Regions from separate parts of the Homo sapiens genome. Here region 2 is linked to region 1. Evidence: fine-mapped expression QTL. A gene starts in region 1. The other region holds a variant in brackets. All regions are shown on one strand. Distances are from middle to middle. Region 1 holds the start of HAP1 (huntingtin associated protein 1). Region 2 holds the start of GAST (gastrin).

Evidence for each region.
Region 2: its variant is fine-mapped to the expression of HAP1 in thyroid (GTEx, PIP 0.97).

What each region holds. Positions count from the first base shown.
Region 1 is chr17:41,727,216-41,743,010 of GRCh38, forward strand. HAP1 (huntingtin associated protein 1) reads right to left here and starts at 7,428. Exons shown (of 11, transcript NM_177977.3): 1 at 6,951-7,428; 2 at 5,504-5,583; 3 at 5,015-5,179; 4 at 4,722-4,903; 5 at 4,423-4,528; 6 at 4,278-4,344; 7 at 986-1,116; 8 at 547-621. The coding sequence starts at 7,419. It also overlaps the pseudogene RN7SL399P. RefSeq lists an enhancer at 6,317-6,859.
Region 2 is chr17:41,704,371-41,720,165 of GRCh38, forward strand. GAST (gastrin) reads left to right here and starts at 7,961. Exons shown (of 3, transcript NM_000805.5): 1 at 7,961-8,017; 2 at 11,062-11,277; 3 at 11,408-11,599. The coding sequence starts at 11,067. The coding sequence ends at 11,502. It also overlaps a transcript of HAP1 not described here and the pseudogene RNA5SP442. RefSeq lists enhancers at 682-1,474, 3,799-4,326 and a silencer at 13,087-13,381. The variant T/C (reference allele first, on the strand shown) is at 10,132.

The DNA of each region.
Region 1 (15,795 bases):
GGAACTGGGATCTCAATCAGCCACCAAGGCTGAGACACAGGCACAGACGTAGGAAAGTGGGCAGCCAGGGGAGGGTCCTCACCAGAGGCACGCTGTATGGGTAATGGGTGGCAGACCCAGTGGACACTGGGGGTTGCTGGCGGAGGGTCTTCACCTCCTCCTGCATCTCAATCAGCATGCCCCCACAATCCATGTACTTCTCCCGCAGGTCCTGCAGCTGGGAACCCACCCACACGCTCTGCTGGGACCCAGGCACACCCAGTCCAGCACTCCTGCCTATCTGCTCTCAGGCTGAGGCCAGAGGCCCAGGTTCTGGACTCCAAGTGTCATGTGGGGGACCCAGGGCAGGTCCCTGCACTCCACACCACTCAGACCTTGATGGAACTGTCACCTGCTGGGCTGTGCCAGGCATGGAGGGGGTGGAAACGGACAAGACTCAGTTCCTGCTAGTCCTCTCCAGAGTCAGGTAGCTGCCAAGGGCCTGGGGTCCCCACTCTGGGCCAGCGGCTCTCCAGGGTGGGGGCAGAAGCCGGCAGCGAGACTCACCTCTTCCTGGAGCTGCATCTGGATTTCCTTCTCCGAAGCCAGCTGCTTCTGCAACTTTTCAGTCTCAGCCCCATACTGGAAGGACCCAAAACCAGTGAACCCCCATCTGAGGCCTACCCACTCAGGGCACCCCCTGCTTCCAGCAAGTCTTCCCAGGCACATCAGTGAGTCCTTGGCAGCCCATGAAATGACAAGTCACACGGAAGGAGGGCAAAGAAGGCAGGGGAGTCACGCAGCCTGGTTCCTAGAAGACTCCAGGACCCTCTCTGGGCCTTGGTCTCCTCAAGATAACAAGGGGTCAAGATAAGGGGCTCTCTGAGGTCTCTGACTCTGACACAGAAAGGGACCTCAGGCCTGGTGGAGCCGAGTGGAGGCAGGAAGAAGGAAGCTAGGGTCCCATGGGGCCACGACAAGAGGGTTCCACACACACCCGACTCACCATCCGGCAGCGCTGCTGCAGCTTCAGCACCTGGGCCTGCAGCCGAGCGACCTCCTGCTGCTGCCGTTCATAGTTTTCCAGCCTGAGCACCAGCACCTCCGACAGCTCAGCCATCTGTTGGCTGGCCTCCGCTGGGGAGGGCAGAGGACAGGTCAGCCCTGGCTCCCCTGGCCTTCAGGGACCAGCTCTGGCCCTCCCAGATGCCTCTGTCTCCCCCACCCTCGGCTGCTGCGCTGTGCCAGTGGGTCCTGCAGGGCTTTGCATTCCTCACTCAGGTCTTCCATTCAAGAAATGTTCATTGACTGATACTGAGCAGGGCACCAGGGTGAGTGGTCAGTAAGACCCAGCCGCCACACTGAGGTAAAGTTGGTGGGGAGACAGACCACAGTCACACATCATACAGGCCATGATGGGCAAATGTCAAGGGTGTACAGGGCAGGGGCATCACAGCTACAGCACCCAACCCGACCTGCAAGGTAAGGAAGGATTCCTGGAAAAAGGAACCACTAAGCTAAGACCACAGGGCAAGTGAAGCTCACCCAGGCAAAGAAGGAAAAACATGGGTCCAAGCTGACTGGAAAGGCCCAGAGGCCATCATAAGACACTGGGACGGGGAGGGCCCAGAACAGTGCACACAGGCCAGACCACAGTAGTGGGCAAGGGGGTGGGGTTTATCCTTTGGCCAATGGAAAGCTATTTGGGAGTTTTAGGCACAGTAATGACGTGGTCAGACTTGGGTTTGTTGGTTTATTTATTTATTTATTTGAGACCGAATCTCTGTCGTCCAGGCAGGAGTGCAATAGTGCAATCTTGGCTCACTGTAACTGCCGCCCGAGTCCAAGCGATTTTCCTGCCTCAGCCTCCCGAGTACTTGGGATTACAGGCATGCGCCACCACGCCCAGTTAATTTTTGTATTTTTAGTAGAGACGGGGTTTCACCATGTTGGCCAGGCTGGTCTCAAACTCCTGACCTCAAGAGATCCACCTGCCTCTGCCTCCCAAAGTGCTGGGATTACAGGGGTGAGCCACTGCACCCGGCTACTTGTTTTTTAAGAAATGAGGTCTTGGGACAGGCACAGTGGCTCATGCCTGTAATCTCAGCGCTTTGGGAGGCTGAGGGGGATGGATCGCTTGAGGTCAGGATTTCAACACCAGCTTGCCCAACATGGTGAAACCCCATCTCTACTAAAAATACCAAAATTAGCTGTGCATGGTGGCGCATGCCTGTAATCCCAGCTACTCGGGAGGCTGAGGCAGGAGAATCGCTTAAACTCGGGAGGTGGAGGTTGCAGTGAGCAAAGACCACACCACTGCACTCCAGCCTGGGTTACAGAGGGAGCCTCCTTCTCAAAAAAAAAAAAAAAAAAAAAAAAAAAAAAGGAAATGCGGTCTTGGCCGGGCGTGGTGGCTCACACCTGTAATCCTAGCACTGCGGGAGGCCAAGGCGGGAGGATCACTTGAGGTCAGGAATTCAAGACCAACCTGGCCAACATGGTGAAACCCCATCTCTACTAAAAATACAAAAATTAGCTGGGCACGGTAGCACAGGCCTGTAATCCCAGCTACTCAGGAGGCTGAGGCAGGAGAATCACTTGAACCTGGGAGGCGGAGGTTGCAGTGAGCTGAGATCATGACATTGCTCTAGCTGGGCGACAGTGAGACTCCGTCAAAAAAAAAAAAAAAAAAAAATTTGCCAGGCGTGATGGCACACACCAGTAGTCCCAGCTACTCAGGAAGCTGAGGCAGGAGAATCACTTGAACCCAGGAGGCAGGGGTTGCAGTGAGCCAAGACTGCAACACTGTACTCCATCTCAAAAAAAAAAAGAAAGAAAGAGAGAGAGAGAGAGAGAGAGAAGGAAGAAAAGAAAGAAAAGAAAGAAAAGAAAAGAAAAGAAAAGAAAAGAAAAGAAAAGAAAGAAAGAAAGAAAAAATGAGGTCTTGCCAGGTTCCCAGGCTGGGGCTGGAGTACAGTGGCTATTCATAGGTGCGATCCTATTACTGATCAGCATGGGAGTTTTGACCTGCTCTGTTTCTGACCTGAGCCAGTTCACCCCTCCTCAGGCAACCCAGTGGTACTCCACTCCCTGGACCATACTGACCCTGTCGGCATAGTGTACTACAGCCCAGAATTCACAGGCTCAAGCAATCCTCCCACCTCAGCCTCCTGAGTAGCTGGGACCACAGGTGGGAGCCCCTGCACCTGGCCAGGTTTGGTTTTAGAAAACTCATTAAGGCTGTGTGCAGAAGTTCCTGGTAGGGCGCGAGTAGAGGCAGTGCGACCAGTTAAGAGGTATCTTGGGCTAGAGGCAGCCCGAGTGGGGAGGGGGAAAAAGACTTAAGCCATTCCTAGGAGGTAAAAGCAACAGAGCTTGGGGACTGGTTCCTACTCCAGTAGCCTGGGGACCAGTGGGGCCATTCAGGGAGTTGCAGAACCCAGCAGGAAGGAAGGTCAGTTCTGGGGTAAAGGGAACAGCAGGAGTTCAGCTGTTGCCACTTTGCGTTTGCATCTCACCAGCTACACTTGAACTCCTCAGGCACAAACACTGCTCCTCACTCATCTTCATAAACACACAGTGCCTAGGACGATGCCAGGCACAGCCACTGCCCCGTGCATGACTCTGAACTGTCCCAGCCCTGGGTGCCTGGTCTCTGGCAGCTCATGGCTCCCTCTTGCCTGCCCCAAATAAGAGAAGACAGGCTTGGAGGAGACCCACCTTTTTTTTTTTTTGAGATGGAGTCTTGCTCTGTCGCCCAGGCTGGGGTGCAGTGGCGTGATCTAGGCTCACTGCAAACTCTGTCTCCCAGGTTCAAGCAATTCTCCCACCTCAGCCTCCCAAGGAGCTGGGACTACAGGCTTGTGCCACTGCATCTGGCTAATTTTTGTATTTTTAGTAGAGATAGGGTTTCTCTAAGTTGGTTAGGCTGGTCTCAAACTCCTGACCTCAGGTGATCCGCCGGCCTCAGCCTCCCAAACTGTTGGGATTACAGGCATGAGCCACCGTGCCTGGCCTGAGACCCACAATTTCTGTATAGCTCTTTATAGTTTGCACAAAGTACTTCCTCAGCTGTTGACACTCTTAATCTTCATAAACCCTGGAGAGATCAGTGGGGCTGAGAAAATTAATCCCCATTCTAAAGACAAAGGTTCAGAGAGGTCAAGGAATGTATCCAAGTTCACACAGCTAGGAGTGCCAGATCTGGGACTTGAACTTGGATCTCCATACTCCACATCTTGAGTTCTTTTCTCTGCTCCTTGGGACAACCCCCCACCCCGAGTGACAACATTACGTACAAAACTGCTCCACACACTCCAGAATGAGCATCTGTTCCTCATCCTCAAGAGTGTCGAGTTGAGAGGCCTGGAGGGAGACAAAGAGGAAGGGACAGGGAAGTCAACACCCCCTGCTAGCAGGGACGCCCTCCTCCCCCATTCTCACCTCTTCTCTCAGCTGATGATTCTCCTCCTCCAGCAGCCTCAGCTTCTCCTGCAAGGCTTCCAGCTGTGGGCAGTGGTGCTGGTGCAGCAATGCCTCCTGCGAAATCCTAGGGGAGGGAGGAATGGGAGTCAGGGTGCAGGGAGTGGGGCTTCCCAGTTCCCAGCCCACCAGGGCTAAGGGCAGTGTTCTCAATTAGTTCCAGCAACCCTGCCAGCAAGCACATCACCTGTGTCCCTCTTAACAAATGAGGAAATTGAGGCTCAGAGAAAGGACTTGCAGGTGCAAAGGCAGGAACTCACAGCTTAGGGGCATCACAGGGATGAGCACACTGCAGGTCTTCCTCTGCTTCTTCTTCTTCCTGTTCCTCTTCTGCCTCCTTTTCTTCCTCCTCCTCTTCTTCATCCTCATCCTCCTCATCAGAATCTGAGTAGAGCTGGAGGAGCTCATCCCGCAAGTTCACCTGGTGTCTGAGGTATAAAATCTGGCAGGAAGAGAGAGGAGCCATGGGTTGGGAGTGGGCAGGGACAGGAGAGGGTCCTGGCATGAGGCAGGTGTAGATTGGCCCGCTATCCTCTCCTCCCCACCCGGTTACCTCCTCCTTGGCTGAGCCCAGCAGGGCTTCCAGCTTGCTGTTCTCCTCCATCAAAACACTGTTCTGTTTCACCAGGGACTGGCCGATGCGAGCTGCAGTGTTCAGGTCCCTCTCTCTCTGCAGGACCATCCCATAGGTAACGCTCTCCCAGACAGGTGGGAGAAGCTGGGGGGGACACAGGGGTCAGAGAGAGGCTAGGCCCCTAAGAGAACCTTCCCCATCCCCTAGTTCTCTAGGGTACCAGACCAGAGTCTGCCATTAACCCACTGTGGAACCTGGCTCAGTTTCCCCTCATGGAAAAAGAAGATCAGACCAGATTGGCTCTGAGAGCTCTTCCAGCCTGAACATCCCACATCGACCTGTCTTCCATAAGAAGGACCCTAACCTGGGGCCCCAGAGAGACTGCCAATCAGGAAATAAACAAGACCCCCACCCCTACAGGACAAAACTAGAATAAGGGCTTGCCTGGATCAGGAAGGCAGTACACACCTCCTCCAGCAAATATAACATCACTTTGACGTCTTCCTGGGTGATCTTTTTGACTGGCGGAGGTAGGTTAGGACACAGTGCTGCAGGAGGCGGCAGGTGGGGAGAAAAGGCCCAGCCAGGTCAGGAAAAAGGAGCAGATGCTACCAGCAAACAGCTGTTTCCCGTCCTATCGTCAGTTCTCCAACAAGGGTCATCGGGAGAGAAGACTGGGCTCCCCTCCTGCCCCCCACATCCTCCCCTTACCCCTCGGCACTCAACACTCCCTTCCCTGCTCCCAGGGCCAAGTGGACAGGGTTTTTAGGTTTTTGGGTTTTTTTTGGTTTTTTTTTTTTTTGGTTTTTTTTTTTTTTTAGACAAAGCCTTGCTCTTGTCCTCCAGGCTGGAGTGCGATGGCGAGATCTCAGCTCACTGCAACGTCTGCCTCCCAGATTCAAGCAATTCTCCTGCCTCAACCTCCCGAGTAGCTGGGGTTATACACGCCCGCCACCACGCCCAGCTTATTTTTGTATTTTTAGTAGAGACGGGGTTTCACCATGTTGGCCAGGCTGGTCTCGAACTCCTGACCTAGTGATCCGCCCGCCTCGGCCTGCCAAAGTGCTGGCTGGGATTACAGGCGTCAGCCACCGCGCCCGGCTTTTTTTTTTTTTTTTTTTTTTTTACCCCTGGAGGAGCCTGAGGTAAGGGGGTCACAGTCCTCCAGGCTCAGAAACTGGGCTCTCCGGACACCTGGGTCCCTGGCGCCTAGAATGGAGACAGCCAGGGGAAGTACAGCCTCAGACTGGCTCATCACCCCCTACCCAGGAGGCAGTGCAATGGAGTCTCCTGGGTCATACAAACAGACGCAGCCACTCACCCTGCACCTGTTGCGTGTGCAGAGGACAGGAGGAAGACTTCACCAGATTAGGAGACACTCGAGCCTCTAGGCCCAATCCAGAGATCTCCCCCGACCCGCAGGAGGATAGGAGAGACAAGGGGCAGGAAAAGAGCGCGACTTTGCCCCCATACCCGCAACCAAAAAGTGGGCAAAACTTCCCCCTCCGCCCGCCCACCCACCCCTCCATCGCACGCAAGCCCGGTCGGCCAGCGCAGACTCAGAGCGCGCGGGACAGCGCCCTCCCGCAGCCCCCCGCCCCTCTCCTGGCACTGCGGTAGACCCAGGAGAGGGGCGCTGAAGGGGTGCAGATCTGCCGCAGCAAGAGGCGCGTGGAGGTGGGTGGGCGAGCGTGCAGGCCCCAGAACCTGACTCACGGGCACAAACCAGGGGACAAGAGCAGAGGAGGAGATGGAGAAGGGGCGACCAGACAGACACCGCAGTGACATCGCGGGGGTGGTGGACGGGTGACACTGAGTGCTAGAGGGGGCGGGGTGCCTGGACCCGATGGGGCCACTTCCTCCCTGGAGTTGCCCCAGTCCCCACCCGGTCCAGGACCCCGGGGGCCCGATTTACCTTCCTCCAGCTCCCGAATAAAGGCGGCGCGCTCAGGGCCGGACACCCCGGGTCGCCGGCCAACGTAGGCGGCTGGCGTCTTCCAGATGCCCGCTGCCTTTCCAGTCCCCCGGCCAGTGGCCCGGGAACCAAACGGCCCTTGGAATACGAAGCGGGTCCACGGCGCGTCCGAATTGTCGGGCATAGACCGGACATCCCCTTGGATGGCCGAGAATGCGGACGGGCGCCGGGCTCCTGCCTTGGCTCCAGCCTCCGAGGCCGGGCGAGCTCCGGTGCGGGCTTCCGAGAGGAACTGGGATCCAGAGGTGGCTCGGGATCCTACTCTCTGTCCAGTGCCCCGTGCCTGCGGCTGCGCAGAGGGCTCCGGAGCGGGACTGGCTGAGGGCGAAGGTGCACAGGTGAGTGCTGCTGGGTCCCCGGGTCCGAGCCGGCTCCCCGCGCAGCACCGGCCCAACCTCTTCGGGCGCATCTCGAGTCTGCCGTCCGCTGCTGCGGCGGGACCTTTATAACCTGCGCCAGCCGCCGGGCCGGACCACGCGTAGGGGTGGGGGCTGCCGAGAAGCAACTAGTGGCAAGCGGGACTCAGAGCCGCGCGGGAGGGGAGCTAGTGGTGACGGAACAGAGCACAGTAAGAAAAGCAGGGCAAGAAGGGCGAGTGCAAGTTCCGGATGGCTCCGAGTTGGGATGGGAGCGAAAGATTTTTTCTGCCCTCTCCATCTCCGGAGAATGGTTCTGCCCAAAGCCGCGGCTGCCCCAGCACTCGCGGGTCCCTGGCTGGGGGCAGCCCCTCCCCAGCTGCCGCGCCGGGGTTTCGGGTGCCTTCCCTGGTGTAGAAGCTGCCAACCCAACGTTGTGCATACGGTCTGGGGTGGCCAGTGCATTAGGGCAGCGCTGCGTCTTTCCCGGTTGACTGGGAGAGACATTCCAAACTCCAGTGCGCTTCCAACGTGCTGCAACCCTGCCTGGCGCTGCAACCCTGCCTGGCGCTGCAACCCTGCCTGGCGCTGCAACCCTGCCTGGCGCTGCAACCCTGACCCTCGCGCTCACACCCCAGTGCTCGCGCCACTCGACGTCTTCCATTTGATTGGATTAACTGTTCTTCACCTCCAACCCTAGTTCGCTTTGCCCTCCTCTTGCCATGCTGGCGAACCCCTGTTCTCCTTGGGAGACGCCTCTTAAAAGTCTCCCTGTAGCCGGGCGCAGTGGCTCACGCCTGTAATCCCAGCACTTTGGGAGGCCGGGGCAGGCGAATCACCTGAGGTCAGGAGTTCCAGACAAGCCTGGCCACCTGGTGAAACCCTGTCTCTACTAAAAATACAAAAATTAGCCAAGCATGGTGGCGTGTGCCTGTAGTCCCAGCTACTCAAGAGGCTGAGGCAGGAGAATTGCTTGAACCTGGAAGGTAGAGGTTGCAGTGAACCGAAATTGTGCCAATGCACTCCAGCTGGGGCTACAGAGCGAGCCTACCCCTCAAAATAAATAAATAAATAGAATACTTTTTTTTTAAGTATCCTACTGGAAATGTTGGGTAGACAATTAGATGTATAAATCTGAATGTAGGGGAGAGACCGGGCTGGAGATTTAAATGTAGGAGTCATTGTTCTTTGATGACCATTTAAAGCTATGAGACTGGTGAGATCCCCAAGAGACTGAGAGAAGACAGGTAAGAGCGCCCAGGACTAACCCCCTAGGATTCAGAGGGCAGAAAGAAGAAGAGGAGGCATCAAAGGAAGACTGGGATGAGTGGGGCAGTGAAGTAGAGGAAAACCAGGAAAGTTGGGTCCTAGAAAGTAAAGAAAATGTTTCATGTAGAGAGTGGCCACCTGTGTTGGGTGGTGCTGTTGGGCCAGGCAAAGACTGAGGACAGAGACTCAGCTTGGCAAACTGGGGTCATGGGCAACCTTGGTGAGCTGGGGTCATGGCCTCGGCAAGAGCGGTCTTGCGGGGCCAGGCACAGTGGCTCACACCTGTAATCCTAGCACTCTGGGAAGCCAAGGCAGGTGGATCACCTGAGGTCAGGAGTTTGAGACCAACCCAGCCAACATAGTGAAACCCCATCTCTACTAAAATACAAAAATTAGCTCGGTGTGGTGGAACAAGCCTGTAAGCCCAGCTACTTGGAAGGCTGAGGCAGGGGAATTGCTTGAACCCAGGAGGCAGAAGTTTCAGTGAGCCGAGATTGCACCACTGCACTCCAGCCTGGGCAACAGAGCAAGACTTGTCTCAAAAAAAAAAAAAAAAAAAAAAAGAGCGGTCTTGGTAGAGGGGGTGAGAGAGACCAAAGAGGAGTGAGGAAATAACGAGAGGTAACAAAATGAAAACAGAAAGAAGGCTAGGCGCTGTGGCTCACACCTATAATCCCAGCACTTTGGGAGGCTTAGGAGGGTGAATTGCTTGAGCCCAGGAATTTGAGGCCAACCTGGGCAACATGGCAAAACCCTTTCGCTACAAAAAAATACAAGAATTGGCCGGGCGCAGTGACTCACACCTGTAATCCCAGCACTTTGGGAAGCCTAGGCGGGTGGATCGCCTGAGGTCAGGATTTTGATACCAGCCTGGCCAACATAGTGAAACCCCGTCTCTACTAAAAATACAAAAAATTAGTTGAGCATGGTGACGGGTGCCTGTAATCCCAGGTACTCAGGAGAATCGCTTGAACCCGGGAGGCGGAGGTTGCAGTGAGCCGAGATTGCGCCATTGCACTCCAACCTGGGCAACAAGAGCGAAACTCCGTCTCAAAAAAAAAAACATAGCTGGGCATGGTGGTGCATACCTGTACTACTTCAGGGGCTGAGGTGGGAGGATCACCTGAGCACAGGTCGAGGCTGCACTCCAGCCTGGGTGACAGAGCAAGACCCTGTCGGAAGGAAGGAAGGAAGGCGGGAGGGAGGGAGGGAGGGAGGAAGGAAGGAAGGAAGGAAGGAAGGAAGGAAGGAAGGAAGGAAGGGAGACAGTATAGAAAACTGTATTGAAGAAATCTGCAACAAAGGAGAGCTGGAAAAGGGCACAGGAGCTGAAGGAGGACATGAGTGCTGGGGAGTGTGTTTTGAAGATGGGAGAGAGGACAATATGTTTACATGCTGATGGAAATGTTCCCTCAGGGAGGAGAAAACAGGTGCAGAAAAGAGAGCTTATCTCCCAGAATACTTCTGGAAATGGAGGAACTTTCATAACATAACCGTTCTCCTCCTTGTTCAAAGTCTGCATGTTTTATTTTCTTTCTTTCTTTCTTTCTTTTTTTTTTCTTTTTTTGAGACGGAGTTTCGCTCTTGTTGCCCCAGGCTGGAGTGCAATGGCACGATCTCGGCTCACCACATCCTCCACCTCCCGTGTTCAAGCAATTCTCCTGCCTCTGCCTCAGCCTCCCCAATAACATGCGTCACCACATCCGGCTACTTTTGTCTTTTTAGTAGAGACGGGGTTTCTCCATGTTGGTTAGGCTGGTCTCGAACTCCCGACCTCACGTGATCCGCCTCCCCCTTGGTCTCCCAAAGTGCTGGGATTACAGGCGTGAGCCACTGTGCCCAGCCCAAAGTCTGCATGTTTCCTATGGTTTCTTTGTCAGCAGAAAGCTTGAAGGAGACACACAACCCCAGGGTTTGCTACGACAGTGAGGTTGAAGAACATAAGGAGGTGGCTGTTCGGGCATCGGCACAGCCCAGGCTTCCGTGAGGCTACAGCTCCATAGGCTCTGCCGAGTGGTCCTCCCACAGCCCAGCTTCCTGGACTGTCTCTCTGTGCCTTGGACATCTCTGCAGCCCCAACCACCAAGCACAGAACAGGGCATACAGAAGAAGCCTATTACACTCCTGCTGAATTAAATTGTTTCTGGCCCCATGAGGAAGAAGCCCTGGGAAACCCCTGGAGAGTTTGACGGGGAAGAAGGCAGAGGCAGTGGGATGGAGAAGACAGAGATGAAGTTAGGAGACCCTGAAAGCTCCCCCAGCTGACCACACCCTCTAGGTCAGCGCACTGGCAGCCAGCAACTCTGGCTACGGCCACCAGAGGGCAGTGTCAGCCCGTATACCTCCCCACGTGGCTTCCTCACCTACAGGCTCAGTCGCCCCACAGAAAGTGGAGTAGGGACAGAGACTCCATTTTACAAATGGAGAAACCAGGGCTCAGGGCCCGTCATTCTGGAAGTAAGCATTTTGGCCTGGCTGACAGATATCTGCCTTTCGACAGCCTAGGGCTGTCCAGGAGACTGGGGGTAGTCTCTGATCCAGGCCTCTCAAGTGGTTTTCCTCTGTCAACCACCCCCTCCCTCTCCTGCTTCTCATCTAGGGGGAGAAATCAGACACAGCAAAGACCCTTGGCCTCCTGTCCTCCCTCCCAGTGTGCATCCATGGACCCTCCTGGATCCGAAAGAGGATGGGAGGGTGCAGAAGACTTGCCAGGCTGCAAAGCCAGACCACCCACCACCTAATTGTGCACACCCCCTGAACCTGGGGCACATTCACTCCAGTGCCCAGCCCTGGGCAGCACACAGGTGGCTCAGGCCCCTCCTCCTGCCCCCTCCCCTGGCCTGACCCTGGGAAAAAAAACACCTGGAACAGGGTAGGTAATAGAAAGAGCCCCTAAGGGTCGGTGCCAGGGACCTGGGGGGGACAGGCACCGGGGTTACTTTCTGCAGGGGAGCAGGGTGGAGGGGCACCCTGAACTAGGAACAGGGGAGACCTCCTCACCCCCGCCGCAGTCCTGCTGTCTCCTGCAGGCCTTTCGGGGGCCCTCCCCCATCTCTGATCCAGGCCTTCCCCTCCAGAACCAGGCAGTGGCCGCCATAGCCCTCACCCCCACCCCAGAACCCAGGTACAGTCCCTCCTTACATCAGCAGAGAATGGGGGACTTGAGGGCCTAGGCCCTCAGAGGTTCCCCTTTAACTTTTCTTTTTGTTTTTTTGAGAGGGAGTCTCACTCTGTCGCCCAGGCTGGAGATCAGTGGCATGATCTCAGCTCACTGCAGCCTCCGCCTCCTGGGTTCAAGCAATTCTCCTGCCTTAGCCTCCCGAGTAGCTGGGACTACAGGCACATGCCACCATACCCATCTAATTTTTGTATTTTTAGTAGAGACGGGGTTTCACCATTTTGCCCAGGTTGGTCTTGAACTCCGGACCTCAAGTGATCCATCTAGCCTCGGCCTCCCAAAGTGCTGGGATTATAGGCATGAGCCACCACACCTGGCTCCCTTTAACTTTTCTCCTCTTCTTAAAGAGCCCAGCCCAACTCCTGGGCCACTGAGCCCCTCTGGCCTGGAACAAGGAGGTAACGAGGTGCTGGGGGCAGCTGGGGGTCTGAGCCCTCTGCCTGCTGTCTTCCATGGCCCCGCTGCTGGCCAGGACCGAAAGGGAGAGAGGCAAGGAGAGAAAGGACAGAGAGCAAGTGCCGGGGACGAGGGCAAGGGGCTGAGGTGGCTGGGACCTCAGGTGGAGAGTACTGACCCCCACTCTGAAGTTCTTCCCCACCTGGGGGCTCCTATCCTGGAGGAAGGCCCCGCCTCCCACACAGGCTCACTCCTGCTCTTGGTTCTGATGTCTGACTCCTCCTCTGAGAAGCCCTCCCTGGTGGGGCTCACCTGTGTTAGGTATCCTGTGCCAGATCAGGCCTCTCTGTGTCCTCCCCTCCCCTGGCATTCTCTCCCGACTCTGTCCGCTCACAGGGTAAGATGATGTCATTGACAAGATGATCTATTTAGTAACAATGAGAGCAGTATCTGTTTTGCTCACTTTTGTATTCTCAGGACTCTAATGAGGCATCCAATAAATATTTGTTGAATGAACACATCAGTGGATTCTCTGGGTATGGATGGTGGGAGTGGTAATCGCCCTGGGGAAGTGACTTCCGGTAAGGGTGAGATCCTAGGACTCTGGACTCCCAAACCAGGGCTCCACATCCCCTGGCACAGGTGAGCGCCACCAGGAACCCTCCAGGGGCACCTGTGGGAGAGGATGGAGACCGGCCAGGATGTGAGCCACAGATCCCCAGGGAGTGAGCCTTGGCACAGCCAGGTGCCCACTTCTTCCCTAGAGCCCTCAGCCCAGCCCCGCTCCTTTCCCCAGGGACCAGAGCAGGAGGCCTGGGCTGGCCTGATATGGAGCTGGGTCCAGCAGGTCGGCAGTGCCCTGACCTGGGAAGCTCCACGGGAAGCAGCTGGGAGTGGGGGGACCACAGCACCCTCTGTGAGGAGGGCAGGACCGTCAGCTGCGTCCAGCCTGCTGGACAGGCAATACCAGGTGGTGGCGAGCCTAGAAGGATGTTCTGGCCCTTTGGCCTCCCTGAGCTACCTCCAGGCTCAGGGATAACACCAAGGAGCCCTTCGCTCCCTGACCTCTGTCCCCAGAGTCAGCAATTCCCTCTCATCCCTGCGTCCATGTCCAGGCTCTGAGCCCTTCCAGGGACAATTTGTGGGATTGGGGATAGAGACAGAGGAATAAATACACATTCACTGAGACCTGACTAGGTGCCGTATGGATTTTGGATATATTTCATTTTATCATCACTGGAAGGAAAAAAATACTGCTGTGTTATAGATGAAAAACAGAAGCCCAGAGAGGTCAAGCAACTTATCCAAGGCCACACAGCCAGGAAGTATCAGGGAGGGAAGATCACAAAGGCTTGTCTTACCAACAGCCCATGTGCTGTCCACGGCCTCCCAGTTCAGAGAAGAAGCTGGGCGACCCTCCCTCTCCCGTACCCAGGGGTGCCTGTGCTCACTGGGTTTGCTTCCACATAATACTACTTATGAGCCAACTGTTAGGTCTTATAAATTAGATGCCCACCGTGGGCATCTGCCCCATGGCCTCTGGAGGAATCCTGCCAGAGGATGGAGATAAAGGAAGGACAAATACCAAGTGCCTTTTGCAGACGCTATGTCCGCTCTTCCTTCTTCAAGCCTCAGCTCAGACGCCACCCAGTCTTGGGAGCCTCCCCTGATCTAACCTGGCTGGATCTGGGTCCCTGCCTCCCAGATCCAATGTGCTTCCCTCTACCTCAGCCTTCCACACACTGGGGCAAAAGCAAGAAGGGCTTCTGTGCCCAGCTTTTAGTATCTGAGCCTGCCTTGGCCCATGCTTGATGGGCTCAGAGGGAAACACTTGTACTCTGACATAAATCCGAAATAACAGAATCATCCTGACTGGTTCCAGTCTTCAAAATAAGAAAGACTGAGTTTTCACCATAAACCTGGACTCCTGGCCGGGCGCGGTGGCTCACACCTGTAATCCAGCACTTTGGGAGGCCAAGGCAGGCAGATTGCTTGAGCCCAGGCGTTTGAGACCGGCCTAGGCAACATGGTGAAACCCTGTCTCTACAAAAATACATAAATTAGATGGACATGATTGTGCACGCCTGTAGTCCCAGCTACTTGCGGGGGCTGAGGCAGGAGGATTGCTTGAGCCCAGGAGGTCAAGGCTGCAGTTAGCCGTCTTCCCGCCACTGCACTCCAGCCTGGATGACAGAGCAAGACCTTGTCATAAATAAATAAACAAAGAAACAAACAAATAAATCTGAACTCCCTAACAAAAAATAAGCCTATTCCTAAAGCTAAGTCATGACCTTTGTGATAAGGTAGTGAAATCGTTGTGGTTCCCATGGCAGAACGGATAATGTCAGGCTTTCCTTTACATCCTTGCCGTGTTTTGTATCTGCCCCGCCAGGCCTTCTGAAAAGGAACCCCCTTTACTCCTCATAAGTAAACGTTCCTCTCCTCTATGTGTCTGTCTCTTTCTTTGACCTGGGCTATAAACACTGATTTCTCACCTGTGGGCCCCACTCAAGGCAGGGGTTGGCAGTCTTCATCTGTGCATTCCAGAGCCTGGTGCAGGCTAGCAAGCTTGAGCGCTCGATAAATACTTACCGGATAACTTAGCAAACTAGGAGAGCAGGCAACACCCTGACCCCAGGCGCTTCCTCAAGGCCCAGCTCTCCCCAAACCCTCCTCCAGGAAGCCCAGAGCATCCTTCACCTTCTCCAACCACATCACGCCCATTGGGCTACAGGAGGGCCTTGGGCTGCCTCGCAGGTGGTCATTGACACTCTCCCGTGTGTAGAGGTCTCAGCTTGACCAAAAGCTACAGCATCAAGAACACAGACAGCTCCTCACATGCTTGTGGTCACCCCACCTGGGCACCTCATACCTAGCAGGGGCTCCAGCAACGTGCGCTGATTCCTTAGTCTGGAGGGCAGGCTGTCATGGTGTAGGTGGGGCAAAGTGGCACCAGGGATGCCCTCAGGGCCTGGCTGGGCCCTTCACTGCTACAAGTGGTCTCCAAAGTGGAAGATGTTCACTGCTGTCCTGACCTCTCAACCTCTCAGCTCTCACTCAACAGTAGACATCACAGAGAGTCTTTGCAGAGGTTTTTTTCTTCTTTTTTTTTTAGATGGAGCCTCACTCTATCGCCCAGGCTGGGGTGCAATGGCATGATCTCTGCTCACTGCAACCTCCGCCTCCCGGGTGCAAGTGATTCTCCTGCCTCAGCCTCCCGAGTAGCTGGGATTACGGGCACACACCACCACGCCCAGCTAATTTTTTGTATTTTTAGTAGAGACGGGGTTTCTTTCTTTCTTTTTTTTTTTTTCTTTTGAGACAGAGTCTTGCTCTGTCACCCAGGCTGGAGTGCAGTGGCGTGATCTTGGCTCACTGCAAGCTCTGCCTCCCAGGTTCATGCCATTCTCTTGCCTCAGTCTCCTGAGTAGCTGGGACTACAGGCGCCCGCCACCACACCTGGCTAATTTTTTTGTATGTTTTAGTAGAGACGGGATTTCACCATGTTAGCCAGGATGGTCTCAATCTCCTGACCTGGTGATCCACGCGCCTTGGCCTCCCAAAGTGCTGGGATTACAGGCGTGAG
Region 2 (15,795 bases), 23 kb before region 1:
CAAAAAATTAGCCAGATGTGGTGATGGGCGCCTGTAATACCAGCTACTTGGGAGGCTGAGGCAGGAGAATCACTTGAACTCGGGAGGTGGAGGTTGCAGTGAGCTGAGTTCATACCACTGCACTCCAGCCTGGGTGACAGAAGAAGACTCCGTCTCAAAAAAAAAAGAAAAAGAAAAAGAACTTGTCTCAAAAAGAAAGTAAATAATATAAAAGCCACTGAAGTGTATACTTTCAAAGGGCAAAAGGTATGGTATATAAACAATATCTAAATAAATGGCTTTTTTTTTTTTTTTTGGAGACAGTCTCACTCTGTTGCCCAGGCTGGAGTGCAGTGGTCTGATCTCGGCTCACTGCAACCTCTACCCCCTGGATTCAGGCAATTCTCCTGCCTCATCCTCCTGAGTAGCTGGATTACAGGCATGCGCTACCACTCCCAGCTAATTTTTGTATTTTTATTGGAGACGGGGGTTTCACCATGTTGGCCATGCTGGTCTCGAACTCCTGTTCTCAAGTGATCTGCCTGCCTCAGCCTCCCAAAGTGCTGGGATTACAGACATGAGCCACTGCGCCTGGCTAAATGGCTTATTTAAAAAAAAAAAAAAAAAAAAAAAAAGAATTGCATCATTTCCAAAGCTGGCTGGGTGGGCACATTATGAGCAGGGGTGTTGCCCTTGCCACATGGCAGCATCTCTCTGGCTCGTGGACAGAAATGACCTCTGCCGTCTGCCAGGGATCATTTGGAATCAGGTGGGTTTATATATGCAGCAAAACTTCAGTAAAGCTTGAAGAAACGCACTGATCCTTCTACCTTCTCTGAAATAACGTTCTCAATAGCGAGGTCATAGGCATAACCAGCCATCCAAACCTCCCCCATGGCCCCTTGAGCCCACCATGTGTCACTCCAACCCACCCCACTCCTGGGCTCAATAGACAACAAAGAAAAGGGAAGAGAAAGAACAAAGACCCCCCTCGATCACCATTGTGTCCCCAGGGTCAGAACAGTGCCTGACACAAAGCAGGCACTTGGAAAATTTGTGTTGAGTAAACAGATGCATGGATGAATGAGTGAATGAAAGAGTGAAAGCACACGGTCTCTAAGCAGGCAGGAGGGTCTGGGATGATGGGCCCTGGTGGAGGGGCTGACACTGAATGGGGTGACAGAACCTCCAGCGATGGAGGAAAGGAGGAAAGGACGGAAGCGGGACTTAGGCAGCTGTGTTCACGGTGGGGAAAAGGGGGCTGACGTCAAATGACCTTGGGAATGAAAGAGAAATGATTCACCACAGTTGCCAGTAACAACCAAGCTGCAGAATATTAATTTGCAATTGAATCAACTGGTCACTTTCGGAAACTTCCTGTCGGTTTTTGCAGGGAGTGGCAGGAGCTGAGGAAGGGGTCGGGGTGGCCTGTCAGGGACCTGGGACCAGCCTGGCAGGTTCAGAAGCAGGACAGGGGCAGCAATCTATGTGCATCACACAGAACTGAGATGACAAACCCTGGGAGGGGTAGGCGGGCTGGGAGGAGCCAGACAGTGGAGGAGCTGGAGGTCACAGTGAAGACAGATTCAGCAGGAGCGAGGCTTCTGGAGAGGGTGGGATGGGAAGCTGTGGGCCGAGAAGAGGCAGCAGCACATGGAGTCCAAGACCCGGGGGTTCCCCAACTCAGCTCCCTCACCTCCTACCTGTTGGGCCGGGGATGAGCCATTCAGCCTGGAACACACCCGAATAAAGACTCCTCTCATCCTCTCACAGAGGGGCCTTTAGGATTATTTTTCCCAGTTAAAACCACTGTTAGGCCAGGCGTGGTGGCCCATGCCTATAAATCCCAGGGCTTTGGGAGGCCAGGAGGGAGGATCACTTGAGGCCAGGTGATCCAAATACAAAGCCTGGGCTGAGAACCACTGCTTCGAAGGCACAGGTGGGCATCAGAGGAGAAAAGGAGAGAGGAGGCTCAGGAGAGAAGCGGAAGCCAGAGTAAGGGTAGCCACTACTCTCTGTCCTTGACAGCCCAGCCTGGGCCCAGGGGTGGTGGGCAGCCTCTCCAGCCCAGTCTGCAAGCAGCTTGCAGGCTGCCCTCTTGGCCCTGCCATGTCACCACTCTCAGACAGCAGCTGAGGCCAGAACCCAAGAACCCACCTCCCCCTACCTAGCCCCCTACCCCAGGGGGGATCATGGATGCCCTCATTGATGCAAACACCTTCCAGGTGTCACTGTTTGTCCCCAGAACTACCACATCCTCCAAAGCCCTGGTTGCCTGGGCCAGAATGATTGAGTCGTCATCAAGCTCTTCCTTTTCTGCCATCAATAACCAATTAGGAAGCCAAGGCACTGCCTCCCTGACAACGGTTTGCAGCTCATCAATAGTGATCTGTTTCCCAAAGCCAGCCCTGGCAGGCAGGAGTGTGCCTGGGTCCACTGAGAAGCCTCTCCCTCCTCAGGGAACAGTCTCCTTCACAGGGGACCCTTGTTTTTCTGTTACTCTTTTTTTTTTTTTTTTTTTTTTTTTTTTTTTTTTTTTTTTGAGACAGAGTCTCACTCTGTCGCCAGGCTGGAGTGCAGTGGCACGATCCCAGCTCACTGCACCCTCTGCCTCCCAGGTTCAAGCAATTCTCCTGCCTCAGCCTCCCAAGTAGCTGGGACTACAGGCACACACCACCACGCCCGGCTTTTTTTTTTTTTTTGTATTTTAGTAGAGACAGGGTTTCACCATGTTGCCCAGGCTGGTCTTGAACTCCTGAGCTCAGGCAATCTGCCCACCTTGGCCTCCCAAAGTGCTAGGATTACAGGCGTGAGCCACCACACCCGGCCGTGTGTTACTCTTTTATGCCCCTAGAATCTAAACTCCACCAAAGCAATGAAAGGGTCTGTCCTGTCATAGTCACCTGTTTTTTTTTTTGAGACAAAGCTTCACTCTTGTTGCCCAGGCTGGCGTGCAATCGCACAATCTCAGCTCATTGCAACCTCTGCCTCCCATGTTCAAGCAATTCTTCCACCTCAGCCTCCCAAGTAGCCAGGATTACAGACGTGCACCACCATGCCCGGCTAATTTTGTATTTTTTAGTAGAGACAGAGTTTCATCATGTTGGTCAGGCTGGTCTTGAACTCCCAAACTTAAGTGATCCACCCACCTCAGCCTCCCAAAGTGCTGGGATTACAGGCGTGAGCCGCTGCACCCAGCGCTGTCATATTCACCTCTTATCCCCAAGTAGCCTCATCTGTACCCTAGCTCACAGCAGGTGCTCAGTAATTGGAATGAATTTGGAATATTCGGATGGTCAGAATAACTCAAAGAACAGCTCCCTTCTTTGTATTTGAAAATTTACATGGAAATTCATGCTGGGCCAGTTTTTACTAAACAGAAACCTTCACAAGGCTGTGATCCCTTGTATCCATTTTTGATTGCTACCATAATAAGTCACCACAATTTAGAAGCTTAAAACAACAGCAATTTATTCTCTCGCGGTTCTGTAGGTCAGAAGTCCTGGTACAGAGTGGCTCACGGGGTCCCCTGATTAGGATCTCCCAAGGCCACAATCAGGTCGGCAGGGCTGCATTTCTTTCTGGAGGCTCTAGGGATGAATCCACTTCCAAGCTCATCCAGGTTGTTGGCCAGATTTCATTCTTTGTAGTTGCGGGGCTGACATTCCTCTTTCCTGGCTGTCGGTGGAGAACCTCTCAGCTCCTCAAGGCCACTGCTTTCCTCGTCCTGTTGCCCTCCTGCCATCTTCAGACCAGCAATTGCTTGTGGAGTCCTCATAACTCCAGCTCTCCGACCTGACCTTCAGCCACATCTCTTCTGCCTCTAGCTGAAGAAAGTTAAGGGCTATGTGATTACACTGGGCCCAGTCAGATAATCCAGCATAAACTCCCTAATTTTTTTTTTCAGAGACAGGGGTCTCACTATGTTGCCCAGGCTGGTCTCAAACTCCTGGGCTTAAGTGATCCTCCTGCCTCAGCCTCCAGAGTAGCTGGGACTACAGGCATGCACCACTGCACTTGGCATAAGCTCTCTATTTTAAAGCCAGTAACCTTAATCACACCTGCAACGTCTCTTTTGTTATGTAATCACATATTCACAGGTTCCAAGGATTGGGGCAGGAACATCTTTGGGGACATGATTGTTCTGCCTGCCACATTCCTACTGGGAGGATAGAGACCTGAGTTTCAGACCCACCTCTCCTTTTTGGTGTGTGGACTCAGGATGGGGATTACTTCACCTGTCTAAGCCTTAGTTTCTACTTCTTTTTTTTTTTTTTTTTTTTTTTTGAGACAGCGTCTCACTCTGTCTCCCAAGTACAGTGGCACAATCATGGCTCACTGCAACCTCACCTCCCCGGCTCAAGCAATCCTCCCACCTCAGCCTCCCAAATAGCTGGGACCACAGCCACGCACCACCACACCCAGCTAATTTTTGTATTTTTTGTAGAGATGGGGTTTTGCCATGTTGCCCAGGCTGGTCTTCAACTGTTGGGCTCAAGTAATCTGCCGGCCTCGGCCTCCCCAGGTGCTGGGATTACAGGCGTAAGCCCCCGTACCCATCAGTTTCTTCTGAAGAAGGGGTTCACACTAGCACTTAGGTCCTAGGATCATGGTGAAGAGTGATTGCATTCATTCATGCTAAGAGCTTATCAGTTCCTGGTACACGGCATTGTTATCGTTGTGATGACAGGGGCAGGGCCCACACACCTGCACCCTCGAGGGGGACGGAGATGGGTCCCAAGGTCTGGGATCTGGTCTTCAATTTGGTAGGCCCAGAAATTGAATTTTCTGCTCACCCAGCTAGTCGGTGTTAGAGCCATGATTCAAACCCTGGCCTCACCAGTTCCAAAACCCCCTGTACACCAGGAGGTCCAGCTTCCATAGACTCTATCCCTGCTGCCTCTTTCAGTGGCAGTTGGGCTGAGGTCCCTCTGAGTCACAGCTGGCAGGAGGGAAACCCTTGGATTCACAGAGTGATATGCTTAGGGAATTACCCTCCTTTAAGCCTTGGGGAAGGAGAACTCCCCCAAGTGTATAAAGCGTGTGCACAGACCTTGTCACCTCTTCCCTTCACTGCAGCCCTATGAGGTACAAATGAATGATTCCTATTTCCAAATGTGGTTAATTGAGACCCAGAGAGGATGGGGGAGAAGACGCAAAATGGATTAAATACCTGCGATATTCTCTTTTGTTTGTCTGTTTGTTTGAGACAGTCTCACTGTGTCACCCAGGCTGGAGTGCAATGGCACAATCTTGGCTCACTCCAACCTCCACTTCCTGGGTTCAAGCAATTCTCGTGCCTCAGCCTCCCAAGTAGCTGGGATTACAGGCATGTGCCACCACGCCCAGCTAATTTTTGTATTTTTAGTAGAAACGGGGTTTCACCATGTTGTTCAGGCTGGTCTCGAACTCCTGACCTCAGGTGATCTGCTTGCCTTGGCCTCCCAAAGTGCTGGGATCACAGGCATGAGCCACCGCACCCGGCCAAATATCTGCAATGTTTTGAGCACCGTGCAGGGCGCTTTATGTACATCACCTTCACGAGACCCTCCTCCCCAAGTTACTTTCCTCATTTCCTAGAGGAGAAAACAGCTCAGAGAAGGAGAGAAATATGCTCAAAGCTCAACAGCTGGAAAAAGACAGGACCAGGAAACCCTTCCTTTTCCATCAGACGAGGTCCCCTCATGAGGAGAACGTGCAGTCCGTGACTGGGGAGCTCCTCAGGGTCAAGGATGCTCATCTCTGAATGCAACCCTTCCCCTGCAGACCTGGCAGGGTCTGCAAATAGTGACATTCTTTTTTTTTTTTTTTTTTTTTTTTTGAGACAGAGTCTCGCTCTGTCACCAGGCTGGAGTGCAATGGCATGATCTCAGCTCACTGCAACCTCTCTGTGCCTCCCAGGTTCAAGCGATTCTCCTGCCTCAGTCTCCCGAGTAGCTGGGATTACAGGCGCCCGCCACCATGCCCAGCTAATTTTTGTATTTTTAGTAGAGTCAAGGTTTCACCATGTTGGCCAGGATGGTCTCGATCTCTTGACTTCGTGATCCACCTGCCTCAGCCTCCCAAAGTGCTGGGATTACAGGAGTGAGCCACCAAGCCTGGCCAAATAGTGACATTCTAACCATTGCCTATGGAATAGGAGACATGCTTCTATTTGTTGAAATTGTCATCCCTCATGTAACCAGCCTGGGGAAGAACATTCAAGGGGGCATAACCCCCTCCATGGGCACAAACTGAGTCTTGGGCTCTGGTACAACCAGGGTTCTACTGAAAACTTATCATTTCCCATTAGTGTTACCATAGCAACACGAATGTCTTCATTCATTCCCCTAGTGTATGAACAGAGCTACACTCACCCCACCTGTTCTCCCAAGCCCCCTCAAAGTCCTTTCATCTCTGAGATTCTGTGATTCAATTAATTATCACCAATGCCTGCACTGCTTTTTGTCGTTTTCATTTATTCCATCTGCTGAGTCACCGTGTCCTGCTCTAGATGAGAGTGGTTATTCACAACGGTTATTCAGCCGTCAGTTGCCATGGACACCGCACAGCCTGCTTCCTTCATCACCCATTAATTCTCAGCAAGGCTGGCTGTAAGCATGGGTACCACTGCAGTTACCCAATACCCAAGGGGATCAAACTCTCCCAGAAAAGGTGGGGGCCCAATGACGCATGAACAGGAGCAAAATCTCTGCTCTCAACAGTGGAAAAGTAAAAAACAGCCTACGGCTCATTACATCTGGTCAAACCATGTGGAGGCAGCAGTTTATCAAATAAGTCAACAAGGTACCATTTTGTTTTCTGGTCCATCTTTGGCAAATGCTTTAGTCTGTTTGCTAACCATTTGAAGGTATATTTTGATACTGAAAAGTTGTTGGCTGGGCATGGTGGCTCACGTCTGTAATCCCAGAACTTTGGCAGACTAAGCTGGGCCGATCATGAGGTCAGGAGTTCGAGACCAGCCCGCCCAACACGATGAAACCCCATCTCTACTAAAAATACAAAAAATTAGCCAGGCGTGGGGGCGTGCGCCTGTAATCCCAGCTACTAGGGAGGTTGAGGCAGAAGAATCGCTTGAACCCAGGAGGCGGAGGTTCCAGTGAGCCGAGATCACACCACTGCACTCCTGCACTCCAGCCTGGTGACAGAACTAGACTTTGTCTCAAAAAAAAAAAAAAGTTGTTATGCAGATTACTAGCTCCCCTTGAAAGCAAAATGAAGGAGGCTTCAAAGGCAGGACCCTCCAGGAATTGGTTCTGCATAGGGGGTTTGCAAGTGGTGGTGCATGGGCAGCTGACCTAGAAGACACGGGGCAGCTACAAGCCAAACCCAGCCCAGCACAGAGGGCCTAAGGAGAAGAAGGCACCAAGGGTGTTCCATGGTAGGGGGAGGGTGAAAGGACTTCAGAGGTGACCAGGATGTGAGCCACTAGAAGGAGAGAACAGGGCCATCAGCCCACAACCCATTGCTCCTGGTAACACGTTATGTTTGCAGAGTCCAGTGGAGGGGACGGGGAATCAATACATCACCCCACATTCACACGCTTGCCAAACATCAGTGGATGGCGAAATCCACTTTCCCTGAATCTAAGCCCATCGGGTTCACTCCCTCACCTACCACCACCCACAAAGGTCCCTATGTAGTTCGAGAGATAAGTGCCAGGCCTCTGACCCCCAGGATATGGTGGGAAGCATTGCTCCTGACCCAGGGAGCTTGGTTCCTGCCCCTCAGGTACAGCTGGAGAGCTGCCGCCACCCCGCTCCAGCCCCTCACCATGAAGGTCAACTCCCCTATCCTTCCCCCACATCCTGGATGACTGACTGACACTAAATGAAAGGGCGGGGCAGGGTGATGGGCTGTACCTGTGCCCCACCCCATTCCTCTCGCCTGGACTCATATGGCAGGGTAGGGGCGGGGTGGGGGGACAGTTGGGAGGGACCTTGAGGGCTTTATAAGGCAGGCCTGGAGCATCAAGCAGAGCAGAGACCTGAGAGGCACCAGGCCCAGCCGTGGCACCACACACCTCCCAGCTCTGCAGGTGAGAAAACCCAGGAGGAGAGGGGAGAGGCTAGGAAGTGGGTTGACAGGTCCTCTCCCCCATCAAGGTACCAGGCCACTGGCCAGAGTCTGGGGCTCACCCCTTGGGGTCTCCAGAGCTGGGACCCTTTCTTTATCCCAGGATGGAACTAGGTCTTGGCTCCAGTACCTACCCTGGTATTCCCAACCTTGCCTTCCACCTGCCCTTCTGCCGCAGCCGGGGCCCTGCCCTTAGCCTATCCCTTCACACTCTTCCCAGCCCTGGGAGGTGAGGAGGACTGGGGTTCTTCTCCTTTCTCTCAGACAAGAAAACTGAGGCCCAGAGGCAAGATGTGACTTGCCCAAAGTCACAGGGATTATTAGGCAAGGCTGGGATAGGAATCCACAGCTCCTGGATCCCACTTCAAGCCCTTTCCTAGACCAGTGCCATCCAAAAGAACGTCCTATGATGCAGGAAATGGTCTTCATCTGCACTGTTCAATATGGTAGCCACTAGCCACGTGTGCGCTTGAAATGGGGTTAGTGTAAGGAAGTTTTTGTTGTTGTTGTTGTTTGTTTTTTTATATAGAGTCTCGCCGTGTCACCCAGGCTGGAGTGCAGTGACATGCAACCTCTGCCTCCCAGGTTCAAGCAATTCTCCTGACTCAGCCTCCCGAGTAGCCGGGATTACAGGCGCCTGCCACAACACCCAGCTAATTTTTCATATTTTTGGTAGAGACAGAGTTTCACCATGTTGGCCAGGCTGGTCACAAACTCCTGACCTCAAGTGATCCAACCCCCTCAGCCTCCCAAAGTGCTGGGATTACAGGCGTGAGCCACTGCACCTGACCATAATTTTTTAATTTAATTAATTTAAATGTAAAGAGCCACATGTGGCTGGTGGCTATAGCACTGAACAACACATGTGGTTAGCATCTGACAATACAGCTCCAGATCACTGATTTTTCAAACATTTCTTCAGCAGCAGAATTCTTTTCTTCCAAAGAAAACCTAACAGAAAACCTGATTATGAAAAACTTAATGGCCAGGCACCGTGGCTCATGCCTGTGATCACAACACTTTGGGAGGCTGAAGCAAGCAGATTGCTTGAGCTCAGGAGTTCCAGACCAGCCTGGGCAACATAGTGAGACCTCATCTCTACTAAAAATAAAAACAAAAAAATTAGCTGGGCATAGTAGTGCACACTTGTAGTCCCAACTACTCAGGAGGCTGAGGTGGGAGGATCTCTTGAGCCCAAGAGGTCGAGGCTGCAGCGAGTCAGGATCACGCCAGCCACTGCATTCCAGCCTGGGAGACAGAGCAAGATTCTGTCTCACAAAAAGAAAAGAAAAAAAGAAAAACTTAAAAGCAGTACAGTATTTTATTAATACAAATGTATTCTGACAAGAGAAAATTTTTATCATTTTCTTATGATAAAGCCAATCAGAATAGTGAGACCAAAAGCATACAAAAATAGTGAGTCCAGGGAATAGATGAGCATTTGAATTTTATGTTTGTTTGAGATTCCAGTTTAGTTCTGTATTATGTTTTCCCCAAACTTGATTCACCCTGATACATAATTGCTAATGGTGACAGCTTAATTTTTTCTTAACTGCTTCATTATAATCACAGGATATTCCTCAGTTAAGCAAAAATGACAGGAGAACCTTTCCTCTCAGGGCTGCACAAAAATCAGTGTGAGCTGGCCAAGCATTGAATGTGCTGCAGTCTCCAAAGTGATAACATGCGGTCTGTAACACAGCTGGATGTCCATGTTCCTTTGGTATTACTATTTAAAAGTTTCACTTTTTGTTTTTGTTTTTTTGAGACAGGGTCTCACTCTGTCGCCCAGGCTGGAGAGCAGTGGTGCAATCTCGGCTCACTGCAACCTCCACCTCCCCGGTTCAAGCGATCCTCCCACCTCGGCCTCCCAAGTAGCTGGGAATACAGGTGCATGCCACCATGCCTGGCTAATTTTTGTATTTTTTGTAGAGATGGGGTTTCAGTATGTTGCCCAGGCTGGTCTCAAACTTGTGGGCTCAAGGGATCCATCCTCCTCAGCCTCCCAAAGTGCTGGGATTACCATGCCTGGCCTAAAAAGTTCACTTTAAATAACAAGTCTTGGGCTGAGCACAG[T/C]GGCTCACATCTGTAATCGCAGCACTTTGGGAGGCTGAGGCGGGAGGATTGCTTGAGCCCAAGAGTTCAAGACTAGCTTGGGCAACATGGTGAAACCCTGTTTCTACAAAAAATACAAAAAAAATTAGCTGGACGTGGTGGTGCAAGCCTGTAGTCCCAGCTCTTCTGGAGGCTGAGGTGGGAGGATCACCTGAGCCCAGGAGGTAGAGGCTGCAGTGAGCAGTGATTGCACTACTGCACTGCAGCCTGGGCGACAGAGTGAGACCCTGTCTCAATAAATAAATAAATTACATTACTTAAACAGCTACAGAACCACTAACATGGCCTCAAATTCTGCAGAACAGAACCTAGGGAAACCATTGCCCTAGGATTTGACTTTCTCCAATAGAAGCAGTGGCTGTAATCGGGGTAGGTAAAGAGAAAAAACACAAGACTTCGGGGCTGGTGTGGAACTGGCAGAAACTGGAGAACTGATCTGAAGAAATAGTCCACAACTCCACACAGAATTGCAGACTCACCCGGGTGCGGTGGCTCATGCCTGTAATCCCAGCATTTGGGAGGCCGAGGCGGGTGGATCACCTGAGGTCAGGAGTTCGAGACCAGCCTGGCCAACATGGTGAAACCCCATCTCTACTAAAAATTACAAAAATTAGCCAGGCATGGTGGCACGTGCCTATAGTCACAGATATTCTGGAGGCTGAGGCAGGAGAATCACTTGAACCCGGGAGGCGGAGGTTATAGTGAGCCGAGATCCCACCACTGCACTCCAGCCTGGGCAACAAGAGTGAAACTCTGTCTAAAAAAAAAAAAAAGAAAGAATTGCACACTCATCAGCAGGTAGAGGCCTGGAGCCACATGGTTCAGTCCCCTGCCTCTGGGCCTCTGTGGGGACAGCCTCACCCTTAAGCTAGTCCCTTCTCCCCTTTGCAGACGAGATGCAGCGACTGTGTGTGTATGTGCTGATCTTTGCACTGGCTCTGGCCGCCTTCTCTGAAGCTTCTTGGAAGCCCCGCTCCCAGCAGCCAGATGCACCCTTAGGTACAGGGGCCAACAGGGACCTGGAGCTACCCTGGCTGGAGCAGCAGGGCCCAGCCTCTCATCATCGAAGGCAGCTGGGACCCCAGGGTCCCCCACACCTCGTGGCAGGTAGGAGCTGCTGACTGCCCTGCTTGCCTCACTTGGCCAGGTTTGGCCAAGGTCTCCCCAGACTGGCTCTGACTTCAGTTCCTGGAAGGTAGGCATCCTTCCCCCATTCTCGCCTCTCTCACCTCCTCAGACCCGTCCAAGAAGCAGGGACCATGGCTGGAGGAAGAAGAAGAAGCCTATGGATGGATGGACTTCGGCCGCCGCAGTGCTGAGGATGAGAACTAACAATCCTAGAACCAAGCTTCAGAGCCTAGCCACCTCCCACCCCACTCCAGCCCTGTCCCCTGAAAAACTGATCAAAAATAAACTAGTTTCCAGTGGATCAATGGACTGTGTCAGTGTTGTAGGGCAGAGGAGGGGGACTCATCTGGGGGTGAAGTTGTGGCAGGGAGAAGAGCTGAGTGCCTCTTAGGGGCAGGGACCCTGGCTGATTCTTCTTGGGTCCCCCAGAGCCCCACATTGAACGAGAATCCACAGGTATGGGCAGGATAATATATGGTAGGGTTCATAGCCAGAGTAACCTTTTTTTTTAATTTTTATTTTATTTTATTTTTGAGATGGAGTTTCGCTCTTGTCTCCCAGGCTGGAGTGCAATAATGAGACCTCAGCTCACTGCAACCTCTGCCTCCTAGGTTCAAGCGATTTTCCTGCCTCAGCCTCCCAAGTAGCTGGGATTACAGGTGCCCGCCACCACACCTGGCTAATTTTTTTGTATTTTTAGTGGGGACGGGGTTTCACCATGTTGGCCAGGCTGGTCTTGAACTCCTGACCTCAGGTGATCCACCCGCCTCGGCCTCCCAAAGTGCTGGGATTACAGGCATGAGCCACCGTGCCCAGCCTCAGAGTAAGCTTTTTAAAAGATAAACCGTGTCACACTCGGTTTTAACGTTGCAATGTTTCCCAGTGCACTTAGAATACAACCTGAACTCCCTGCCACAGCCCTGAAAGCTAGCCCTGAGGTTCTCCTCCCACTGTGCGCCAAGTGGCTTCCTTCTCTTTGTCCTCTCGGTCCTTTCCCTTACACAGACACGCCATGTTCTCTCTTGCTCAGAGCCTCCGACCTTGCCATTCCCTGTGCCTGCAACGCTCTTCCCCAGGCACAAATATGGTGGGCTCCCCTTTCCTCCTTAGCTCTTGGGTGAAATGCCTCTTCCTGAGAGACCTACCCTTTCTGCTCCTCACCCTTCACACATAGACCCAGTTATTCTCTACCACAGGGTCAAATAAAAGAGAAAAAATTAAGCTTTTTAAAGAATGAATGCTAGTTGTATTCAGAAGTCTTACAGAGGACTATAGATTGAGGCCTCCAGCCCAGGAGCAGGCTCTGGCACAATGTTTCAGCCCATTGCTTATATACATCTGGGGGCTAAAGGTGGAGGTTCCGTATGTGCAAAATCCCATCAGACTTGCTCAGAATTACATGACAGCAGAATCACAGCAAGATTTGGGTCCTAGATCACAGAGGCATCATCACTAACCTCGTCAGATGTCATCTTGGAAATGTTCTGTGTCAGAAAAGCCAGGGACTAGGATTATTTCTCTTTTAAGAAACGTGAAGACTCAAGCCGGGCGCAGTGGCTCACATCTGTAATCCCAGCACTTTGGGAGGCCGAGGAGGGTGGATCACTTTAGGTCAGGTGCTCGAGACCAGCCTGGCCAACAAGGTGAAACCCCGTCTCTACTAAAAATACAAAATTTAGCCAGGCATGTGCCTGTAGTCCTGGCTACTCGGGAGGCTGAGGCAGGAGAATTGCTTGAACCCGGGAGGCAGAGGTTGCAGTGAGCCAAGATTGCGCCATGACACTCCAGCCTGGGCAACAGAACAAGACTCTCTTTCAAAGAAAAAAAAAAAAGAAGAAGAAAAGAAAAGTAGTGACTCAGCCAAGAGACATGGGAGGGCCTCAGGCTCTCTCCTGTGCTGTCTTCAAAGCATCTTTCCGGAGGGCTGCACGTCTGTCTCTAGTCACAGAGTCAGGTGCTTTGTGAAACTGTGCCGACAAGCAGAAAGGAGCAAACACAGCTTCTTAATGTTTGTTGCTTTGTCTCACAATAGCAGAATATTTTCTTTAGAACACATTTCACAATCTGTAGTTGTTTTGTTTGCCAGTTTATTGTCTGCCTCTCGGGCAAAACAGGAAACTGGGAGCGTGACAAGTCCCTCCTCCCTTCTGTATCCCCGGTGGCAAGAATAGGAGGAACCCAATAAATATTTGTAAATAATTGCTCATGAGTGGCTGGTGCAGGCATTGCTGGTGTCTCACTCCATTCCATCATTGTTCTTGTGCCTGTTGACACCATTACCTTGAGCTACCCGCCACCTGAGGGCTGTAGAGGAGGGAAAGTGTTTTCTCTACCCATCTTAGGTCCTCGGCTGGGGCTCTGTTATAAAAGACAGATTACAAGAGAAAAGCAAACAAGTTTATTAACATGTGTATCACACATTTAACACACAGAGTACCCAGAGTTGAGTAACTCAGAGAGGTAGCTTAGAATTCAGGCTCACACTGTCTACGGCCATACCACCCTGAACGCGCCCGATCTTGTCTGATCTTGGAAACTAAGCACGGTGGGGCCTGGTTAGTACTCAGATGGGAGAATTCAGGCTCACAGAGCATCTTCAACAAAGAACAATACATTTGTAGGCAAGATAAAGGACAGCAATTTTTAGACTTCCAAGGGTGGCTAACTGTGTGTGGGAAACAGCTTTCTGCCCGTGGGAGCTGAGCCCTGTCCCCTCTCAGGGCTGGGTCTGGTAGCCAGTGGGCCTCCCCCGGCTTCTCCTGCCCCCCTGGGCTGCCATGTGACCCACATCCGGCAGTCACAGCTCTTGTGCCAGCTGCAGAACAAGGGCTGGGGTTCCTACCGCCTGTCCCAGAAGAGGGCTGAGGTCCAGGCCCCCAAGCTCCAGCCTAGGTTAGACTTCCAAGGGTGGCTAACTGTGCATGGGAAAGCAGCTATATGGAAAACGAATGGTAGATAAAGGCTAGTGAGTCAAGTTTGTTATTAGATTGCACTGGTGCCACTCCAGGCTGAAAGGGGTCTAAAGTTGTCTCCGACTTGTTCCAGACATTATGGAAGGAAAACGTCCTACGTAAATGAAATTGTCATTCTGTGTCCTCCCACCACAGCAGCAGATGTGTCCTTCCGTTGAGTGAGGGTAACCTTACGTCCACCAAGGATACTTGGAGAAAGTCTATGAGGAGCAAGCTTCAGTCCCACGGTTTCAGACTATTTATGCTCTGAACACAAGAGTACTGGTTAATTATGTTCTCAGCTCTCCTCGCTGTTCTAAGTGTGCACTTGTTGCAAGTAACTTATATTTTTTTATTTGAATGTATTTTATTTTTTTGAGACAGAGTCTTGCTCTGTCACCCAGGCTGGATTGCAGTAGTGCCATCTCAGCTCACTGCAACCTCCACCTCCCAGGTTCAAGCGATTCTCCTGCCTCAGCCTCTCAAGTAGCTGGGATTATAGGCAGGCACCACCATGCCAGGCTAATTTTTGTACTTTTTAGTAGAGGTGGGGTTTCACCATGTTGTCTAGGCTGGTCCTGAACTCCTGACCCCGTGATCCACCCGCCTCAGCCTCCCAAAGTGCTGGGATTCTCTAGGTGTGAGCCGCTGCACTCAGCCTGAATGTATTTTAAAGCAGTAGATAGAATAACAAAGGAATATGAAAACCATGGATTGAATGGACCATTTTATGTATTCAGAGAGACGAGCCACCATCATTGCCAGAAATACCATGTAAAAATTGGCAATTTGGCCAGCCGCAGTGGCTCACGTCTGTCATCCCAGCACTTTGGGAAGCCAAGGCAGGCGGATCACCTGAGGTCAGGAGTTCGAGACCAGCCTGACCAATACGGTGAAACACTGTCTCTACTAAAAATACAAAAATTAGCTGGGCATGGTGTTATGCATCTGTAATCCCAGCTACTCAGGAGGCTGAGACAGGAGAATTGCTTGAGCCCAGGAGGCAGAGGTTGCAGTGAGCTGAGATCACGCCATTGCACTCCAGCCTGGGAGACAGGGCGAGACTCTGTCTCAAAAAAAAAAAAGGCAATTTGGAGATTGCAGTATTTAGTAAACAAATAAATGATCAACATTGTGCAACCACTACCAAAAAGTGTATTGTAATGCATCAAAAATCAACATTTTATTCACTAATGAGTATCAATAAAATAAGTCCAAATTATGGAAACCAAAAAAATAATAAAAAATAAAGTTGTCTCCAGATATTTAACTTTTTTTTTTTTTTTTTGAGACAGAGTCTCACTCTGTTGCCCAGGCTGGAGTGCAGTGGCACGATCTTGGCTCACTACAAGCTCTGCCTCCCGGGTTCATGCCATTCTCCTGCCTCAGCGTCCCAAGTAGCTGGGATTACAGGCGCCCACCACCACGCCTGGCTAATTTTTTGTATTTTTAGTAGAGGCGGGGTTTCACCGTGTTAGCCAGGATGGTCTCGATCTCCTGACCTCATGATCCACCCACCTTGGCCTCCCAAAGTGCTGGGATTACA